2 separate regions of the Homo sapiens genome follow, and region 1 is linked to region 2. The links come from fine-mapping of genetic effects on gene expression. A gene starts in region 2. The other region holds a variant in brackets. All regions are shown on one strand. Distances are between the middles of the regions.

Evidence for each region. PIP is the estimated chance that this variant, and not a neighbour inherited with it, causes the effect.
Region 1: its variant is the best candidate, but not a certain one, in a credible set for the expression of OSBPL7 in fibroblasts (GTEx, PIP 0.71).

The regions. Positions count from the first base shown.
Region 1 is chr17:47,860,458-47,863,385 of GRCh38, forward strand. It overlaps a transcript of SP6 not described here. Among named protein-coding and RNA genes, the nearest start is that of SP6, 11 kb to the left of the region's middle. The variant G/A (reference allele first, on the strand shown) is at 1,924.
Region 2 is chr17:47,820,429-47,823,216 of GRCh38, forward strand. It overlaps OSBPL7 (oxysterol binding protein like 7), which reads right to left and starts at 1,366. Exons shown (of 23, transcript NM_145798.3): 1 at 1,238-1,366. RefSeq lists a silencer at 1,329-1,544 and an enhancer at 1,655-1,824.

The DNA of each region.
Region 1 (2,928 bases), 40 kb after region 2:
TATACAGCAACTAGTACTGAGTGTGCAATAAATATATGTTGCACTGGATTGAATTTACACCCTTTGCAGAGGACAAGGGGCTGCCAGGTCAGAGGTTGGTGAGTTCTCTATAAATCCCCTTGTCGGCTGGGTGCAATGGCCCATGCCTGTAACCCCAGCACTTTGGGAGGCGGAGGCGGGAGGATTACTTGAGGCCAGGAGTTGCAAACCAGCCTGGGCAACATAGTAAGACTCCGACTCTACAAAAAAAAAAAAAAAGTTAAAATAAATAAATAAATAAATAAATAAATAAATCCCTTTTGTCACATCACTGAGAGTTGGCCTCATGGCCTTCAAGACACTGCATCAAAAACATGCCCTGACCCTTCCTCTTTCACCCTGACACTGTGCCCAGTGCCCTGTCAGGAATCCAAGGTCAGGGGTGGCAGACAAGGCTCCATAAGAGGCCCAGTATCCTGTGTCCTGGTCAGCTGGGCACGGCCACCAACCCGCAGCCAGGGTCATCCAGAGAACCTCCAGCAGGATCCCACGAGAGGGGAATTAGAGAGGAGGCTGGGTATCAGGACCTGGCAGGCGGAATCAGGCGGGTAGGGGGAAGGAGGGCAGTGCCCTGGAAAGGGGGCCGGTCTCATTGTTGTGGTCTGTCTGGGAGATTCCTCCCCTTTTTAATTTGCTTCCTGATTGAGGGGTTGGCTCTGACTGCCCAGCTCCCCCGTCATTATCTGCTGCCGGTGGCTCAGGTGCTGGCGAGCCTGGTGTGGCCCGTAGGTTATTACCTGGAGCTCTGGGGGTGGCAGAGGCTGCCCCTCTGGCCGGGGTGGGGGCCTGTCTGGAATCTGCCCTGATCCTACCACCCACAGGGCAGCCATCTTGATGCCCAGCATAGTGGACACATTCACTTGGTTCCAAGAGTCAGCTGATCCCAGGCGGACTTCAATGTCTAGAGGAAGCTTCATCTTTCAAGTGCCTAGAGTATGGATTCAAGAACCTGAAGGCCAGGCGCAGTGGCTTATGCCTGTAATCCCAGCACTTTGGGAAGCCGAGGTGGGTGGATCACTTGAGGTCAGGAGTTCGAGACCAGCCTGGCCAACATGGTGAAAACCCATCTCTACCAAAAATACAAAAATTAGCCAGGCATGGCGGTGCGCGCCTGTAGTCCCAGCTACTTGGGAAGCTGAGGCACAAGAATCGCTTGAACCCAGGAGGCAGAGGTTGCAGTGAGCCAAGATCATGCCACTGCACTCCAGCCTGGGTCTCACTCAGACAGAGTGAGACTCCGTCTGGAAAAAAAAACAAAACCTGAGGCAGCCAGCCACGGTGGCTCACACCTATAATCCTGGCACTTTAGGAGGCCAAAGTGGGCAGACTGCTTAAGCCCAGGGATTCAAGACCAGCTTGGGCAACATAGCCAGACCCCATTTCTACAAAAAGTACAAAAATTAGTTGGGCATGGTGAGGGTGCCTGTAGTCCCAGCTACTTGGGAGGCTGAGGTAGGAGGATCACCTGAGCCCAGGAGGTCAAGGCTGCAGTGAGCTATGATCACACCACTGCATTCCAGCCTGGGAGACAGAATGAGACCCTGTCTCAGAAAAAAAAAAAAAAAGCCTGGCATGGTGGTGGCTCATGCCTGTAATCCCAGCTGTTTGAGAGGCCAAGATGAGTGGATCACCGGAGGTCAGGAGTTCGAGACCAGCCTGGCCAACGTGGTGAAACTCCATCTCTATGAAATACAAAAATTAGCCAGGTCTGGTGGCGGGTGCCTATAATCCCAGCAACTTGGGAGGCTGAGGCAGAAGAATTGCTTGAACCTGGGAGGCAGAGGTTGCAATGAACTGAGATCGTGCCACTGCCCTCCAGGCTGGGTGACAGAGCAAGACTAAGTCTCAAAAAAAAAAAAAAAAAAATTGGGTGTGGTGGCACAC[G/A]CCTGTAGTCCAAGCTACTTGGGAGGCTGAGGCACGAGAATCGTTTGAACCTGGGAAGTGAAGGTTGCAGTGAACTGAGATCGCAACACTGCACTCCAGCCTGGGCCACAGAGCGAGACTTTGTCTCAAAAAAAAAAAAAAAAAAAAAAGGTAAAGCACCCAGAGTTAGATCCATTTCTCAAAGGCTGTGAAAGGAGTTAAGTCATTCATTAAGAAGTGATTCCAAGCCATGTGCGGATGAGAAAGAGACAGCAGTGAAGCTAGGGGATTCTCCTGCTGAATCCTTCCTATTCTGTGGTGTTCAGAAAACCAAGATTCGTAGAGGGGAAAAAGTGGCATTGATCTATGAACCTGGGACAACTAGAACCCAGCATGTGGGACTTCCTGTTGTGTAGGTGCAGAGGAGACTCAGCCTCCTGTAGTGCCTGGAGCATTGGACTTCAGACCTCTGCTCAGTGCCTGTGGGCGCAGCCTAGAACCCTGGCAGAGAGGGCACCCTTGCCTCTTCCATCTCTGAGTCCCCAAAGTTCTGGCCCTTTGCATTATCCTTGATTGAGCCTGTGAGCTTCAAGGACAGGAGATAATATAAAGATAAACAGGAAGTGCCAAATTAGAGACACGAAGTTTGTTGTTTTAGAGGGCGCCCAGCGCCAAGCAGCGGTGCCAGGTTGGCAGTCCTGGAGCCTGGTGTCTGCCTGCTCTCTGCACAGCCAGCTGCCCCTTGGACCACAGCAGGAGGGCCCTCTGGGCAGGAAAGGAGGATGGGATGGAGCATGGCAGGGAATGGGTTAAGCAAGTCATTCTTTTTTACCCACCAGCTGAACATTTGCAGTGTCACCTCTGATTCATTCTGGGCATTTAGTCACTCATTCCACAGATATTTTTAAGCTCCTTCCCTGTTCCAGGCATGTGCTTGGTACAGCCTCTTCCCCCAAAGCTAACATCCTCACTAGAATGTAAGCTTCATGGAGGCAGGGGGTTTCGTTCATTGCACTACTCCCAGTG
Region 2 (2,788 bases):
CTCCCACACCCTCTGAGATAAGGGCTCCCCAACATACCCTCTGCTCACCTGCCAAGCCTCTCCCAAGTCTGCCCCTCTGTCCCGACCCCACCCATTTTCACCTGATATGGACACTGCCCTGAGAGTGAACTAGCACACAGCAGACGGGCAGGTGCCCAGGGAAAACCACAAGACATATGCCCAGCCCCGCCTTGGGCACATACTCTGGGGCTCCAAGAAACATTCAGTGCTTTCTTTAGAGGCTTCCCTGGGAGTGCTCAGAGGTGAAGCAAGGGAGTGACAGAAGAGGCTCCAAGAAGAGACAGAGGGGTTCAGAGACTGGACAAGCGAGACCTCCTCAATCCAGCTGCCTCTGCCTTCAGGACCCCTCCACCCTGCCACCGTAGCTCAGAGACTTCTCTGCCATGATCTTGCAGAAAACTCCCCAGCCTCCCACCAATTAATCTCCATATTATCTAGTGCTTGGAGAAACTGAGGCCTGAGATAGCCCCCATTTTCCCATGTCTCCTCCCACCAAACATGCCCCTAGGATGCCCTTTTTGGACCCTCAGTACCCCCTAAAGCCTCACCATCCCCTGTCTACCCTCACAGTCCTTGGGGCTCTGAGAAGTGCCACCCACCCAGAGAGGGCAGGACATTGGGCTAAAGGAGATACTTCATGAGAGAAGAGGGGGCCCAGGACATGCCCAGGTCTGCACAGGTCCTGCAGCAGTGCCCACAGGCACCCTTGGCACTGGCCCTGGCCATCCTGGCTCCACCGGGAGATCAATAATGCATGAGGCTCTGCATGTGTGAGACGGGGGAGGGGACTGGAGGGGCGAGGCTGGTTTGAGGTGGGGGAAGCAGCCCAGATCTTCTAATGGAGCTAGCAAGCACCTGAGGAACTGAGGCCCAGAGGGGACAGGGATGTGGCAGGAACGGGTGCCCAGGAGGTTGGGGCAGAGGGACCCTTGCTGCAAGAGGCTGACCTGGGAGGAAACTCCTGCATTCAGCCATTGAAAGTTCTCAAACTCTTCCGGTGTTCAGGTATCTCTGGGCCCTTCTCCCGGCCCTGTGGGGATCCTGGCCCCTCACTGCTTGTGGGTAGAGGGGGAGGCTCTATCGGTAGGCAGGTGAAGGGTCTAGGTGAGCCAGGTGGGTGCCCCCTCTCCACCTCTATTCAGGAGCAGACCCACCAGCTTCAGGTGGGAGGAAGCTCTTCTCAGGAATGTCAGCTGCTGCCACGCAGCCCCCTTACCCCAGGGTCCATGGACGCCAGTACTCCTTGGCCCTTGCGCCGCTCTGCCTCTGAGTCACCGTCTCCGAGTCACCGGCTCCCTCCTCACCGCGCTGAGCAGTGGCAGCAGCTGCTGCAGGAACCAGGAAGGAAGGAGATGTCAGAGCCTCCCCTCTAGCCGGATCTCCCCACCTCCCTCTCCCCTGTCCCCTCCTCCCGCCAAGCTCCGGGCAGCCGCTCAGCTCTGCCCCCCTGCTCCCCGGAGGACTCAGGGCTGAGCAGACTGCCCTAGCATCGATGTGGCTTGGGAGTGGGGGCACAGTCCCTGCTGGGCATGGTTCCAGATAGATCAGAGGACTGGGGAACTGTTGGCTGTACGCCAGTGGTGATAAAGGATTTATTCAGACTAGCATGGCAGTGACCCTGTTAGTACCCAAGGCCAATTCCTAATTAACCCCCGCCCCCCGCCTCTCATTTTACATCTGAAAATAGACTGCAAAATTTGGAGCCAGCAAAAGTATCAGGTTGATGGTGGAGGGACAGATGCCCCCTCTGGGACCATAAGAGAGTGCCAAGAGCACAGTCAGCAGGGGCAGTCAAGCCAGGAAAGGGACAGCCAGCAGTCCCCACACTGAGGCCCTTCACTGGGGTGATGCCCCACTAGGTCAGGCCCCATGGAGATCTGAAAGTGCTTGTGTGTATGAAGACACCCCACAGCCTGCAGTCTCTGATCAGGAGCAGGCCTGGGGCAGTCACAGCTGCCGTTAAAAGGGCTGCAATGCTGGTCCCCTCCCTTCCCTTTACCCTTCTGCTGGAGTACTGTGCCCAGCTGCTCAATTCTAATGAAAAATCGGCTCTTAACAAAGATCTAAAATTCATTCAAATGAATGTGGCATAGACCTACAGTTTCAAGCGCAGCTAAGTTTTCTGGAAAGAAGTAGGTGGGGCCTCAGGTGAAGGATGTGATTCAAGTTTCTTCTCTGACCCCAAAAGTGACATGGGCCACTTATCCCTTCCACTTCATCCTCACCGAGCTTGGTTTACGTTTCAGGGTCTCACATATCTCTCGGGAACACCCACTGTCTTGCCTTTATTCAGAGCCTCAGTGCTGCTCCAGCCACCCCAGGAGGAGGGTGTTGTTAGCACCTGGCAGGGTTCTGGGAGGGACAGGAGCACTGGGCAGCACTGACCAGACAAGCTCTGGCATCCAGGAGCCTCAAGGGCCTTTTAAGCCACTTCCCAGTGATTGAACATCCCTGGGCATACAGCACAGGATGAGGCACTGGGGGAAGCTGGTCCTGGCCCAGGCCACAAAAGAGCTGCTGCAGGTCATCCCTGCCAGACAGTGCCTGTCCAAGACTAAGGAAGCGGTGGCATTGCTTCAAGTCCGAGAAGGAATGTTGAACAGCCACCTTCCCCGGGTCACCCCTGCATCCACCCAGAATGTGCTCCAGTCAAGGATGATGGTGGACTCTGAGTTAAGCATCCCGTCTCCTTTATTAGGAATTTCTGGTTCATGAAGACTTGCATGAGGCCTCCTACCCTAGAGCTCTCAGAATTCCCCATTAATAG